2 separate regions of the Homo sapiens genome follow, and region 2 is linked to region 1. The links come from fine-mapping of genetic effects on gene expression. Tissue or cell type: spinal cord. Region 1 holds a variant in brackets; the other region holds the start of a gene. All regions are shown on one strand. Distances are from middle to middle.

Region 1 (8,201 bases):
GTCAGGGTGCAGGGAGGGTTTGAGCCATAGGAACACTTGGAGGAGAGAAAAAGGCTCATGAATCAGTCAACTCCTTCCTTTCAGATACACAAATATTCTTCATCCCTGCACAAGAAAGCACCATTTCCCAGAGGTGCCAAATGTCTATGTGCTTGCTTCTTTTCATGTCTCAACACGCAGTTCAGGAGGTCCTCAAAACTCACAACACTTGCACATGGCGGCCAAGGAACGTGTTACAGTATGAAGCCATCCCTATTGTTCTTAAATGTGCATTAGAGGTCCAGATACAACATATGTGAAAAATGACATCAAAACTCTACATTCATATTAGATTGAGAGTTTATTTGAAAAGGTAGTAAAAGTTGCAGTATAAGTGATAGCAATTTAGACAACAATTAAAATATTTGCTAATATTTTCTTTGATAAAGATAATTTATCATATGGCACCCCTTTACCATGTTTGGAACATGATGTGTCCTATTCATGGCTCCTCACAACCACACACACTTGATGAAATATATGCTATTGCTGATACAGGTCAGACCTGTGTCCCTACCCAAATCTCACATTGAATTGTAATCCCCAGTGTTGGAGGTGGGGCCTGGTGGGAGATGACTCGATCATGGGGGTGGTTTCTCATGAATGGTTTAGCACCCTCACCTTGGTGCTGTTCTCATGAGAGTTCTTGCAAGATCTGGTTGTTTAAAAGTGTATGGCACCCCTCCCTCCTCACTCTCTCTTGCTCCTGCTCTGGCCACATGAAGTTCCTGCTCCCCCTTTACCTTCCACCATGATTGTAAGTTTCCTGAGGCCTCCCCAGAAGCCGAGCAGATGTCAGCATCATGCTTCCTGTACAGCTTGTGGAAACGTGAGCCAATTCAACCTCTTTTCTTTATAAATTACCCAGTCTCAGGGATTTCTTCATAGCAATGTGAAAACAGACGAATACAATTATCATCTTCATTTTACAGATAAGAAACCTAAGATTCTAATTGGTTAAATAATCTCTGCAAGCTCCCAGTCGGCAAGAGAAAGAACTGGGATTTACTCAGAATTGAACTACAATGACCAACTCAATTATTAGAGAAAAATGTCTTGGTCTGATCTAAAGGGGACAAACACAAAGTTCACAGTCACACACTGAACCTCAAACCTCAGCCAACCCACTGTCTTGCAGGCTCAGGCTGCTGGGGCACATGGGAGAACCCCCAGATGGGGGAGTGTCCTCACACACAGTCTCACTGGCCTTGTTTCAGCCTCCAGAGACAGGATAGGTAGACACTGTCCTCCCATCTCAGAGACCAGAAAACTGGTAATTAGTCAGGGGACAAGCCAAGGTTGGGTGCAGATGCAGAATTGGGGCTGGAAGTCAGGTGTCAATGCCTTGGCCTTCAATGTTCACCACAGACATCACATATCCTAGAAAGGATTTCCTTCCCCTGCATGCCACCAACAGTTAGCCCTGCCTGCTTTAGGCCCTCAAAGTGCCTTGGATACCCAGAAGCAGCACATCGCCTAAATGCTTGCTTGCAAATATATCTCTCACCATACCTTTCATCCAGTAAAGGCAGGGCCCGAGATTCACACATTTGGGCACCACGAACAATGTGCCTGCTTTATAGAAAGCACCCAAAGAAATGGTCAATGAAGGATTGAATGGAACAAACATGAGAAGTCAGCAGCTTTCCCCCATAGGTCTTATATCATGGACAACCTCAGAAAAACGAGACATGAATTGAACAAGGATAAACTGTGATGAGACCACGTGCCCCTGGGAGCCACCATTTCATAATGACTCTTGGCTGCACAAACCCTATATGAGAAGTGAGGACCTGTAGAAAGACCTTATACTGTCCAAGCTTGATTCAAAGTCCCAAGTCAGATTAGCTCTCTACTCCTGCAGCATCTTGGAGTCCCTGCATGTGACTATGATACTGCCACGTCGGTCTCTTATTCCACCCGGCAGAGTTGAGCTACAATCCAGTGCTAGATTACCCCAAGCGAACATTAATATGGCTACATTTACACATTGTGAAGCTGATGTGAATGCAGAGATTATGTAATCACCTCAAGACAGGCTGTGGTTTTGGTCCTGAAGCCAGAAAAATCACTCAAGACACACCCAAAAATCTACACTAAGAGAATCTTTTTGCTAATAAGAGCCATTCACTTACAATGTTATTAATAGTTAAAGCTAACCCCACCACCAGCCCCAAACACACAAACATTTTTTAAAAGCCACCCATTTTTTATTTCAGACATGGAGTATTTCAAAAAGAAAACGTTAGAAGTGATTTTAAGGGTTCATACAAGAGAAGATATAGATGTATTCAATAAATACCCATATTTTAAAATATTCTTTAGTTTTAAATTGTGGTTGTTCAAAGAATTAAAAAACCAAATGCGGAGCAAAAGAGGGCAGAGTAAAGGCAAAGAAGAGAGACTGAAAGACACACAGCACCGAGGGCTGAGAGAGCAAAGAGACTCACCTTGCGGAGATCCTCCACTCTCATTTAAGCCTCAGCATCACCCAGCTAGTGTATTTTTTTTTTCCAGAAGGGAAATGGAAAATCAGAAAGATTAAATTGGTTGTCCAAGGTCACTCAGTTTGGAAGTGTCGTGGCCTGGGTCCAAATGCAGGTTTATGTTGGTGTATGCACGTCCCAGGATAGCACCCCTAGTTATGAGCTGGTTTTTACACTGCTTATTTCCCCCAAGTACATGGTCTCATCCATCGCTCCCATCAGCTTACGTGCAGTCTTCACCTGGTACAGAGATTTCAATCCCTGGAACTTTAGCTTTCAGCCTGCAGAGATCTGCTATAAATAAGATGGTCCCAGCAGCAGGTGAATGCAGGGGAAGGTAGATGATGGCATCAATCTGTCTTATAATGACAGCAGTGACCAGGACCACAGGGACCAGTTTAACTCAAGCTAAGGATCTCAGTTGAGTTTCCTCACTTGTTCTAAACAGAAACTCAACACTCAGACATCAAGTATATGACTGTTCATTTATTCACAAAAAGCAAAAGAAAAATCCAAAGGGTATGATTTTTAGAGTGAAAATTATTGGTGACTGGAGGACTCGGTGACTTAGATCCTACATCCTACCTAACTACCTATTAGAATATGTGGTTTGTTTCAGTAGCATGCGTCCGCTCTGCCTTGTTTTTTTATCTCTTTGTGAGGAATTTCTCACCCGCACCCCCACAAAATGCATGTGCTGGTGGAGGGTCCTCTGCAGCCTGAACGGCTACACACAGTGAAGACAACAGGAACCCTCACCCTGGCAGCAGCTTTTTGGTTTACAAGGAGTGGGAGGTCTTTTAACTGAAAGGTGAATTTTGGTGTCTGGTTCCAAAGGGATTCACTTAGATGTAATGAGGCTAGGGGTGGAGGGGTCACAGTCCAGAGGGCTTGCAATCCTGGACCCAATCCAAAAAGTCACAGAGTAAAAGAGAGAATAAAATTACAATTCCGTCTCTAGACTCTGTTTCAAATATAATTAGGGGAAACGGCTCTTCTCCATTTAGTTTTTCTGTTTTCATATTTGAAAATAAAATCCAACAATGGTAATAAGTACTTTTAAACTTTCAGCACCATATATATATATTTTGGAGACAGAGTCTTGCTCTGTTGCTCAGACTGGAGTGCAGTGACATGATCTCAGCTCACTGCATGTAACCTCCGCCTCTGGGTTCAAGCAATTCTCGTGCCTCAGCCTCCCCAGTAGCTGGGATTAGAGGCGTGTGCCACCACACCTGGCTAATTTTTGTATTTTTAGTAGAGACAGGGTTTCGCCATGTTGCCCAGGCTGGTCTCAAACTTCTGAGCTCAGGCCATCCTCCTGCCTCAGCCTCTCAAAATGCAAGGATTACAGGCGTGAGCCACCATGGCTGGCCTGGCGCCTGATATATTTGAGATAGTTGCTCACCATCATCCAACTGCAACTGTCCTTTGTCATAAAATCAGCGGCAAGCTTCTGGGGAAGGCACCCTGGCCAGTAATACATTCACTAGAAGACTTAACGTCCCTTTCTCTGCGTGGATCCTCTCTGACCTCTCAGCAGGGGATAAAACTGCTCCTGGTCTAAGACTCCCATAATCTCCCAAATCTCCTGCTATACAGCTTTGCCTTGGATCCTCTGCCTCCCCTCTCCCCCTAAACTTGAGATATTTCCTTTTCCAGGGCGGACACTCAATTACTGGTTAACTTGAACATAGAGACCTTGCTAGTTGGCACATACAGATAATTTCTTTTCTATAAAGCTCACCTCCACAAGCTTCCTGTTTACTGTGAGTGACAGCTGTGAGCCTTTGACCTTGCAGGTTGGGAGTTTTCCTACAAGACGCTTGCTCCTGGCCTTCCACTCAACTAGCATTTCCCAAACCTCAATTATCTGTGTACCAACCTTGTGATTTTTCTCATACGCATATGTCACCTGTGTGATTATTTAATATTTAGCTTTATTATTTCAATAAACTTGTAATGAAAAAACCTGTCACAAGTGAAAGACCAGTATTATTTGCCACGATCAAACTAAATATAACAAATGACTTCAGCAATATTTCAAATAAAAACATCCTGTCTATCACCAGTGATCTGGGAACCACATTTTGGAAAATAATACACATGAATTATCATTTCTTATGTGAAATTTACCCGTTTACTTTTCATCTTTAAAGGAGATTCCTCCACTCTTCTCTCTCGAGTCTTCCGAAATTCTACCCATGAACCTCATCCCAATACAAAATAACCAAGGATTGAAACTCATATAAGTACAAAAGGCCTTTAGGAGCCAGGAGGAAACAGAGGCCAAAGCAACATAAATCTTTCCCAAGTGATAGTCCAAGGACATCAAAACAGAAAGCCAATTGTTCTAATGTTTACATAAAATTCAGAAAGACTGCCTCCCAGAGAGCCAAAGCAGGCTGATAAAGCTTCCCAGATAGGAAGCACCATCTCCCAATTGTGATGTGTTCTGAAACCATCGTGAGAAGCCACTGTTTGTAG[C/G]TCAGTTTTGCATGAGACAATGTAAATAGAACAAAAGAAGTCAGAACAAGAATGAGCACACAGTTCTGGATGTTGCTCATGCTGTCTAAATCATCTATGTGCCCAACAGGCGGAAGACAGACATGCGCATAACGGATGTGACCAGCAGGTTGGCTCTCTAAGGACAGGGATCTTTTTTTTTCTCGTTTCCTGATATCTTTGGAGCCTAAAAGAGCAGAGTAAGAGCCTAATAAAATATTCATGAATGGGTGTTTATTGGCTGTAGACAGTCAGGATGGCTTCTGTTTTGAAAAGCAACAAGGAGGTGGATTTCCCGCTCAGAGTGGATGAGTCTGTTGTGTATGCAAAGCAACCTCACCAGTGAGCAGGCGCTCTGATGAAGACACTTGAGGCCAGGTGCCAGCACACTGGGAGGCTCAGGTTCCATTTCAGGGCTTTTTAATGGGGGGATAAAGGACTTAAGAAAATTCCTTTTGTAATCTTTAGGAAGGAGCGTTTCTCAGCAGCAAAGAGGCCTGCCCAGAGGACGGTGCCAGGCCCTTGGGGGCACTCTGCTTGGCCCCAGAGAACTCATGGCTGACCTTGGGCAGTAGCTACCCATGCAGCAGGAGTTTCTGCACCTGTGTGTACTGCAACCCTGGGGCTTGTTTAAAATACTGATTTATGGGCTGGGTGCGGTGGCTCACGCCTGTAATCCCAGCACTTTGGGAGGCGGAGGCGGAGGCGGGAGGATCACGAAGTCAGGAGATCAAGACCATCCTGGCTAACACGGTGAAACCCCGTCTCTACTAAAAATACAAAAAATTAGCCGGGTGTGGTGGCGGGCGCCTGTAGTCCCAGCTACTCGTGAGGCTGAGGCAGGAGAATGGCATGAACCCGGGAGGCAGAGGTTGCACTGAGCTGAGCCGAGATCGCGCCATTGCACTCCAGCCTGGGCGACATGCGAGACTCTGTCTAGGAAAACAAAAACAAAAAACAAAAAAGATACTGATTTATGAGAGAATCAGCTAATGCTGAGAGAAATTCCAAATGACTCCCTACCTAAGTGCAGGACAGCATCCAATGAGGGAGACGATGCTCATTAAAAATGCAGATTCTTGGGCCCCTTGTCAGGTCTAATAATTTTGACAGATTTGAAAATATACATTTTTCACCAGTATTCCAGGGGTTTGGATGCACCCGGTCCACAGGCTGGTTGGGAAACACTTCTCTGGGGCCCTTCAAAGGGGAACCTGTGCTAATAGAATATGCCTGGGACTGGAATGCTCAAGCTATTGCATTACATTCAGTTTAGTTGTTTTGTTTTTTTTTTTTTTCCAAGCAAGTTCCAATTTTATTTCTGCATGAATAAAATACCCCTCTGGAGCTCTGTTTTTCAATTTCCGGGGGAAAACATTTTTAAAGTGCCGATAAGATTCACTTCTTCAAGTTACTCCTGCTAGTTTCTGTCCAGCCCCTACATCACCATCACAGCCAGGTCACTCTCCCAGCTTCTGTTCTCGCAAATAGAGGAGGTGCTATTTTTCACCATAAAAGGAGAAGTAGCAATAATTCTAGGCAACAGAGAACTGGAAACAATTGGAGACAGGGTTCATGGCTGCTGTCTCAACAAAAGAGATTAATACAAGGCTTTCAAAATAAAAAAGGAGAGTTGAAAGAAACTAAGTGACGAGGCTCAATACACAGTTTAAGATTAAAAAACAACAGCAGAACAACGGAGCAGAATTCAAAATATGTTGTATTATTTTTGTTAGGTTTTTTTTGTGTGTGTGTGAGAGAGACAAGAGTCTCGCTCTGTCGCGCAGGCTGGAGTGCAGTCACACGATCTTGGTTTACTGCAACCTCCGCTTCCCAGGTTCAAGCAATTCTTCTGCCTCAGCCTCCCAAGCAGCTGGGATTACAAGCATGCGCCACCACACCTGGCTAATTTTTGTATTTTTAGTAGAGACGGGGTTTCACCACGTTGGCCAGGCTGGTCTCGAACTTCTGGTCTCAAGCTATCTGCCCACCTTGACCTCCCAAAGTGCTGGATTACAGGTGTAAGACACCGTGCCCTGCCTTATTAGTCTCTTGATTCGTTAATCTGCAAAACCATCTTTATTGCCTAACCAAGAAGAGCAGCAATTCCAAATATTTCCTGCTACTTTCTATCATCTTTGGGTCTCATTTTGATAAAGAATTTTCAAGTCCTAACTTGATTTGTGAGAGTACCTCTTATATCAGACAAAGTCAATGGGTCATGCTAACAAGTTTTAATCACAGAGAATTTTTGAATAATTATTTTTCTAATTTGAGATATCAAAAATAATATATTTCTCCTATTTGCCATATGTGCATTTTTTTTTACATCTGCATGCATCTTTTTTATGGATACAAAGTATTTTACATATTTATGGGGTACCTATGAATATCTGTTACATGCATAAAATCAAGCCAGGGTATTTGGGGTATCCATCACCTTGAGTATTTATCATGTCTCTGTGTCAGTAACATTTCAAGTCCTCTCTTCTAGCTACTTTGAGTATACAATACACTGTTGCTAATTATGGTCACTCTACTTTGCTATCAAATATTGAGCTTATTTCTTCTATCTAACTGTATGCTTGTACCCACTAATCAACCTCCCTTCATCCTCCCCTCCCAACCACACCCCCTTCCTGGCCTTTGGTATTTATTATTCTATTCTCGGCTCCACAAGACCAAGTGTTTTATCTCCCACCTATGAGTGAGAACATGCAGTACCTGCCTTGTTTTGCCTGGCTTATCCCACTTAACATAATGACCTCCATTTACATCCATGTTGCTGCAAATGACATGATTTCGTTCTTTTTCTATGGCTGAATAGTATCCCACTATGTATATATACCACACTTTCTTTATCCATCTGTCCATCAATGGACACTTAGGTTGATTCCTTATCTTTGCTATTGTGAATAGGGCTGTGATAAACATGCAAGCGCAGGTATTCCTGTGATATACAGATTTCTTTTTTCTTTGGATTAATACCTAGTAGTAGATTGCTGGATTGTATGGTAATCTATTTTGAGTTGTTGGAGAATTCTCCATACTGTTTTCCATAGTGGTTATATTAGTTTACATTCCCACCAACAGTGTATGAGTTCCCTTTTCTCTGCATCCTTGCCAGCATGTCATTTTTTGTCTTTTAGTAGTAGCTATTCTAACTAGGGA
Region 2 (8,150 bases), 120 kb after region 1:
GAAAGAGATGGTGTCTTTGGGGGTCATCCCATACTCCACAAAAGGATTCCAAACTCCCATTTGCAAAGTGAGGTTTTTAACTGAGGCACCTGAGCAGTGGATGCTCTAATCTACCCACTAGAGAGATGGGTGAATTTTTCACTCGAATTGCATGACTTCAGACAAAATGGTGCACATCCTCCCCTAATTCCTGTCACTTCTGAGTCATTGGCTCTTCCTTGAGAAGAAATGGAGCTATGCCCCAGGACTTTACAGATTGAAATAAATCAGAGGTTTTGAAGTCCATCCTTGGAGTTCTGAACGGCTCTGTGTGGTTTAGAAACTATTTTTCACAGGAAAGTTTTCACTAAGGGGATATGCTAGTCACAACTCCGCAAGATGAAAATGGGAGTTTCCAGAGGTCAGACAGTGCCTCAAGGTGGTAGGAGGAGGGTTGGAGCAATGGCCTGGGAAGATAAAGAAGACCCTCGGGTCACCCTGATTAATGTGACTTTCAGAGCAAACAATTTACCTACAAACATTTCTCCCCTAGTTTGTGGGTAAATGCGAGAATTTTACATCAAACAGGCTTATTACCAATACAGTACAGCTCAGCTGACTACACAATTTTTCATACAAAGAGCCAGCATTTGTCAAGCTCCTGGTATATTCTGGACACTGTACTTCATACATTGACACAAATCAAAGCATTGCAAAATGAAATAGGGTTCAGCCTGCCCTTATAAAGAAAAAAGTTACATACGCAACTAAACCCCTCTGGTTTGTGGGGTTCAGGGCAAAAGTACAAAGCCCCGCACCCATAGTTATTTTCTAGTGTTAATCAAGCTAGCAAATTCTCACGTATTCCTCCTCCCTTGACAAAGGTAGCTTTATAACAGCCTAGAAGGCCAGGGACAATTTAGAATTTTCAGACTTTTCAAAGTTATGGGTCAGACACAGAAATAGCAGACCTGGCCAATGAACAGAGCCCCTTCCCTTCCCCACCCAAGCTCCCTCTCTCCTAGGGGGGCCTCTTGGGCACCCACGGGGACTCCCTCCACTCCTACCCAGCCCACATTTCCAAGCACTTTTACGCCCCAGCAAACAGCTGCCCCTTTGTGAGCTCTCCAGGGATCAGGTCTGCCTTCTTTTCTAGGGCTCAGGCCTTAGAAGCTGGTATGGGTCCCTTTGGGCTGGGTATTCATTCCATCCAGGTCTTGGGAGGGAGGGGGCAGCATGGTCTCTGGGTAGCAAGCCCCTTTGGACCTACAGACTTCCAGCTCTGTGGGGAGGGGCACACCCCCCCCCAACCCCCAGAAGGCCAGACTGGGCCCTTTAAACCCAGGGGATAAGGATAAGGGGGTTCTTCCGCCCAGGTCTGAAGGCCATACTGGCTGAGAGCCTTCTCTATATTACACTAACTAGATCAACTTTTTCTTTCCTTGAAGCTTTCTGGGAGGGTGATTCCTATACAAGGAATAAAGATGAATAAATAGATGGTATAAGAGAAGATTCCTGTTCAAAAGGGGTGAAAGAAAAAAAGTTGAAATCTTTGTGGCTATCTAGAAAAAAATTGACAGCTGATATCATGGTCTGAAAGGTAGAAAAGGTAAAATATTCCTCAAACAGCAAATGTGTTGACAGCGTTCTAGAAAGTCTGAGATGGGATCCTTGCCTCATGGCATAACTTGGGCAAACCTTAAACTGTGTTCTTTCTGTGTTTGAAAGTGGATGTCCTACCCAGACCTTTGCAGAGACACCAAAAGAGCTGGATGAAGACCTGCCAGAGGCACCAGGGCAGCCAAGCTGAATCCTAGGACGTGGACACACTGAGTCAAGCTGGGCAAGGGAGGTTTGGGTCCGCTGCAAACACAAAGGCCTGAGGGACCCCCATGGGAGGCAGGCATAGGAGCTCACGGTCAGAGGAGCAGCAACGGCATGGGCTTCACCCCCACAGCTGACCTAGCATCGGCTTTGCCTTTTCTCAATCAGGGCAAGTTGGTCAGTTCTCCAGGCCTCCATGTTTTAATTCTCTAGAATAGCGATATCACCTGCCCGCATCACCAGGTGGTGATGCCCTTAAGAACTTAGCACGATCTGGCACATGGTAAATTCTCAAGATGCTTCATCTAGAACTGAAAGCGTACGGGTCAGAGCTAGCGCTGAACCCAAGATGTGGGTCACCACAGACCCCAAGCTGGGTGTGCTGCGGGCGGAGGAGTGGACGGGGTTTTGAGGAGAGGGGCACACCGGAACACATAAGGTACAGCGGTCAAGAGGTTAAGTGTTACAGGTCCCTATCCTGTTTTGGGGCAGGGGAAGGTGTTGCTTTTGCAAGTCGCCCAGCCAGAGATGGAAAGAACAGGCACCTAAGGCCCCAAGTTGCTGGCATCCGTGAGCTCCGAGGGGGAGAAGGACGAAGCCGCCCTGCACCCCGCTGGGCTCCAGGGCCGCGCGGGTGCCAGTGGAGAGGCCGGGAGGGCTCGGAAGAAAAACGCCCGGCTCACTGGAGTCGGAGACGCAGCCACTCACCCAGCAGCAGCAGCTTAAGCTCACGGCGCGCGTCCTTCTTGTCCCGACGAAGCTGTCGCTCGATCTCCGCGCTGATGCGCTGCGACTCCTTCTCCTCCGCGGACAGGCAGCAGCAGCCGGCCATGGTGCGCTCAGCTCAGTACCCGACGGGGCGACGCGGCCCCGGGCACCCGAATCCTCGGCCCGGCCGCTCACCCGGCCAGCATGCGACGGGCACAGGGGTGTGGAAAGAAAAGACGGGGGCCGACTTGAGCTTTGGAGTAAGACGCCTGGACCTCCGAGGCTCAATCCCCCTTCGAAAGTCGGCTCTGAGGCGGGGTGAATGCCGAGCGCTGGGAACGCTCGAGTGCACCCCGGATCCGGGCTCAGCCCGCCCCACTCTCGCTCTGGGGAGGAGGAGGGCGAGTCGAGAAGTTGGGAGCGTTGCTGGCCCCGGGAAGATGCGCGCGCCCCTTGGCACAGGAGCCGGACAGCAGTCGGGGGCGCAGACGAGTTGGAACGTCGGTGCTCGGGGGAGAGTAGGATCTCCTGGGCCTAGGGGTGTCCCCAGGCGGGAGGTAGGCGCGGAGTGGGTTGGAGGCAAAGGACCTGGCTGGCCTTTGCCTGGAAAGTTCTGAAAACCTCAGCAGTGACCGCAGACTAAGACTGAGTGGAAAGGTTCCCGCTAGCGTTTGTGGCTCTAAGTGGCAGGAGGAGGCGGAGCATCTTGAACCTGCAGCCCTGGCGTCTGCTGGACTTGCCCTTCTGGGCACCCCAAGCCGAAGGCGCCTGGAAGTGAAAGGGGACGAGCAGGGGGCGCGGAGCTGGGGGTGGGAGCTGGCACCTCTAGGAGCAGCTCCCACACTTGCCTCCCTGGCTGGGGCGTCCCGGCCAAGGTTTGCTGTAATCTGCGCGTCTGGCCGCCAGGCACCGGGTTCCGACAGGTGAGTGAGTTTCGCCAACTCACTCGCTCGGAGAAGGCGGCAGCAGGCTGGAAGAGGAGCGGCGCCAAGCGTCTGTTGCGGGACACAAAGCCCCGGACCTGAAGTGGAAGCTTGCCCACCAGCTTCACCACCACGCACACCCGGATTTCCTAGACTGGCTCCTTCCGCTTCCCGGACGCCCCGGCCCAGCTCGGGCTTGGCCAAAGCCCTTGGTCAGCTCGGCAATTTGCCTGTAAAGTGTGGCTGGGCCTGAGCCTGCTGGCTCTGAGCTCGGAGAAGGAGCCGCCGCTGGGTTCAGTTATAAGAGAACTGCAAGAGCCCAGGGTAAATATCCTCTCGGTCTCCGGACGAGGGGGCTGGGGAGAAAGGGAACGGCTGATTGCTTTGCATTTTATGATGGGAAAGACACCTGCTTTGTAGAAAGGGCTGATACGTTCCTAGTAGCACCTGGCAAGTTTCCTGCCCAGCCCTGAAGCCTAACAGCCGCCTTGCGATTGTGTCCGCACTGACACCTTGGCCTGTATCCTGGACCGTCGGGGTCAAGTTTGAGCAGCATTAATAAAAACTTTAAAAGCACCTCTTAGTACTTAAGTGACACGATAAAATGCATATTACAACATCTGACTTTTGTCTGTGTAGATTTTGATGCAGAAAAGGGAAGGTGGGGAGAGGGGATCCTATTGGCCACAGCAATGAACGTTCTTTCCTTCTCAAGTCAGTATAGGCCATATGCTAATGGGGCGTTAGGCAATTAGCTAGCGCTTCCTCTACTAAGAGCAGGCATAAGTGCCTTTCATTTGAGTAGCATATATTTTATAAATTCAAACTGAGGAGCACATTGAGTGGAATGGTACGTGTCATTATATAAAGAAGTTGGTATCGCGATGCTATCTGGCTGCATGTTCTTATTATTTTACAGTTTAAGAAATGTAGAGGAATCAGACATTAAAAATGTGCATACATGCTTTAATGTGTGACTATTTTAGTTTTCTTGCAGGCATAAATTGACAGTAACAGTGACCCCTACAGGAAAACTCCTGGACATTTCAGATTTGATCTTTGGCCATTTAATAGCCTGTTTCTTCTCTCTTAGCTCTTACGGATTCATTTACAATTTGAGAATAAGATCTCTTGGCTTCTCAAAGTCATGGTTGCATCATAATTGTTATCATTTAAAAATTATAAAAAATTTTTAAATGATTAAAACTAGGGCAAATTTGAACTCTTACGTTAACGGGAATTACTGATACTGACCTATTAGGTTTAAAGTTGGCAAGATTTCAAAAACAGTTATGAAACATATTGATTAGGGCAAATCTGTACAACTTTCCTGGGCTAGTCAGCTTGGCAGTATATATCTGAAGCCTTAAACATGTCCGTCCCCTTCGGCCAAACCAGTAATTTCTCCCTTAAGAAATAACTAGAAAGAAGCCTCATGACTGATGCAAAGGTTTTATTGCCAATACAACAACAAAAACTCACAACCTAAATACCTAACAACAGGGAAGAGATCACTTAAATCATGGTTTATCCATACAATGAGATGTTTTGGAGCCATTAAATATGTGGATATGCGAGTAGTAAACATGTGAATAAATTTGGAGAAAATCCTCAAAATATATTGAATGAAAAAGGCAAGATCCAAAAATATAAAGAGTATGATAAGATTTTAGTATAAGAATACGCATACACATTTTTAAGAGACTGAAGGGACACACATCAAAAAGGTAGCTTGCTGTGAGTCATGGCTGTTTGGTTGATTTTCATTGTTCATTAGAAAATTTGGGCTGGGTGCAGTGGCTCACGTCTGTAATCCCAGCACTTTGGGAGGCCGAGGCGGGCAGATCACCTGAGGTTGGGAGTTCGAGACCAGCCAGCCTGACCAACATGGAGAAACCCCATCTCTACTAAAAATACAAAATTAGTTGGGTGTGGTGGCACATGCCTGTAATCCCAGCTACTCGGGAGGCTGAGGCAGGAGAATTGCTTGAATCCGGAAGGCAGAGGTTGTGGTGAGCCAAGATCACACCATTGCACTCCAGCCTGGGCAACAAGAGCCAAACTCCGTCTCAAAAAAAAAAAAAAAGAAAGAAAAAATTTGGGGCAGCTTGCATAAAATTATTTAGGCTCCACTTTCCTTAACTATAAGATGAGAGGGATAAGCCAGAATAAGCTCAAAAGGATCACCCAACTCTAACATGCATTATTTCTTTGATGACATTCACACTTATCCAAAATAAATTTATTTAAAAATAATCAAAAACCTAAAGTTGTTATTGAGCATCAGCCACTGGTAAGAAACAGAAAACTGGGATATCACAAGTCAATCATTTTTATACTTCTATGTTTTATTCATCTCTGTTTTCCTTATCTGTAGAATCTGGAAGGTAAAATGATAATAATTTTAAGATATTAATTCATTGGAAACATCTTTCCAGGAAGGGGTAGTTTTGAGAAGAGTTCTCAATAAAAGAGAATATTTATTTTCCTAAGTTATTTCAAAAAAGCTGCAATTTTATTTTATTCATCTTGAAGACGAGAGCGCAGACTGGACCTGAGTTTCAGATATCCACCAAGTGTGGGGCTACAGGGGTGAGCTAATTGTCTGATATCCCTCTGAATGTCCACTAGGTCCATACCAGCCCCTGTACCAGGCAGTGAGGATTCAGGTAATAAGACAATTCCAGACTTTCGGTAGAGCTATAGTCTAGTAGAAAGAAGTAAAACTGAGACCCTGAAATCTGAACCTACCCCTTCCTGCTTCCTTCCAGAGAACAGTGAGAGCACAGAGTCACCTGAGGGCGCTCCCCAGGCCTACAGATATGCACAGCAGCCTCATCTTCCATCACTCTCCTGGAACTCTAGACAAATGGAATTTTCTGTTCTCCCTACCTCCTGCCTCCATGCCTCGGTGCATGCTGTTCCATCTTCCAGGAATACCATCTCTTACCCTAGGCAAAATTAGGTAATTTCTTTTTCAATTACATCTCTTCTGAGGAAGCAACTCCAGCCCTTGTCAGTTACATCCATCTTTCCCTACTGCTGGAACACTGTCAACATCTCACTCTATTACACCCGTCTGTTTCTTCTAATCTATGAGTTACTCACAGGTAAAGAGTTTTTCTTACTTATCCTGGTATTCCTAAATTAGCAAGTTTCAGTTGACTAACCTTAAATACTGAAACCAAGAAGAATTAGTCTGAGATGCAAGAAAAGAAGGTTCTTGTGGTGGAAGACAGTGAAAACCAATAAGCAAGTACAAAACAAATGAATGTATAACTTAGGAAGAACTTGTATATATGAGCTGCCCTCACCTGCCACTGGCCCCCTTAGAGAGAATGACTGCCCTGTTTCTAATTCAGAATGCCAAGGAAATGTGCAAATAGAGGGCTGGAAAGATGCAGTTCACTTTCACAAGTGTATTGTCTCTGAACTTAACAAGTAACATAGAGTAAAAATAGGACCTTGAGGAAGTTCACAAAGCACTAATACTAATGTACCTTTGCTGCTCTATGTCAGCATTTTTCAAACTGCAGTTGTGACACATTCCTAGGGTGTGGCCAATATTTTTTCTTAAGAATAAAATATAAAGAGCCAATATCAAGGTTGCTGTATGTATTATTATTTAATAAAATGTTTTTTAACTTTTTTTTTTTTAAGAGCCAGAGTGTCTGTCACTCAAGCTGGAGTGCAATGGCGTGATTATGGCTCACTGCAGCCTTGAACTCCTAGGCTCAAGCAGTTCTCCCACCTCAGCCTCCCAAATAGCTAGGACTACAAGCCCATGCCACCATGTCCAGCTATTTTTTTATTCTTATATTTTGTAAACGCAGGGTCTCACTATATTACCCGGGCTGGTCTTGAACTCCTGGCCTCATAGAGTCCCCCTGCCTCAGCCTCCTGAAGTACTGGGATTACAGGCATAAGCCACCACATCTTTAGTTTTATTTTATTTTTAAGCCAAATACCCAGAGTTCAGTGAGAAAAACTTTAGTTTTAATTGTACGTGTATCAACTCTTAAGCAGCTCAGTCATCAGTGGGAGTCTGCTTGTCCATCTCCTGAATGTGTTAGTGTAAATGATTCCAAATTTTCTAATTCATTTTTCTGAATCCAATATGTTCTTTTTTTTTCAGTTTGAGTTCAATGTGTTCTCTAAAATGTTTTCAATCCTTCTTCCCCGTCACTTCTACTCCCCATCCCACCCATTGGCTCTAGTTTGGTAGGTGAGAGTTGATGGAGCAATGATGGATAATGATTGATTGATTGATTGTTTTTAAAAAAATTTTAGATTCAGTGGGTACATGTGCACGTTAGTTACATGGGTATATTTTGTGATGCTGAGGTTTGGCCTTTAATTGAACCTGTCACCCCATTAGTGAACACAGTAACTAATAGGTAGTTTTTCACCCCTTTCCCCTGCCCCCACTCCCCACTATTGGAGTCCCCAGTATCTATTGTTCCCAACTGATGGATATTTAGATGGATGTGTAATACTGATGCTAGTGGTTGCTTGCACTCAACATCTATTTTTTTTAAGGCAATCAACATGTCAACATGTTGCTCTACAATATTCTCTGTCTGAAGACCAGAAATTGTTTATTATATAACTGTTACCGAAAACGCTGGGATGATAGACAATGAAGTCTGCCTTCAAACACACATGACTGTGAGTAGGCAGGAATTGATATTGTTTGTTTTTGAATGTGACTTTTCA

Evidence for each region. PIP is the estimated chance that this variant, and not a neighbour inherited with it, causes the effect.
Region 2: GNA14 starts here. The variant in region 1 is fine-mapped to the expression of GNA14 in spinal cord (GTEx, PIP above 0.99). The same link has a PIP of 0.9 or more in substantia nigra.

The regions. Positions count from the first base shown.
Region 1 is chr9:77,529,579-77,537,779 of GRCh38, forward strand. The region is part of intron 1 of GNA14 (G protein subunit alpha 14); the gene reads right to left. Among named protein-coding and RNA genes, the nearest start is that of GNA14-AS1, 86 kb to the left of the region's middle. RefSeq lists an enhancer at 4,676-5,188. The variant C/G (reference allele first, on the strand shown) is at 5,013.
Region 2 is chr9:77,645,159-77,653,308 of GRCh38, forward strand. It overlaps GNA14 (G protein subunit alpha 14), which reads right to left and starts at 3,164. Exons shown (of 7, transcript NM_004297.4): 1 at 2,512-3,164. The coding sequence starts at 2,635.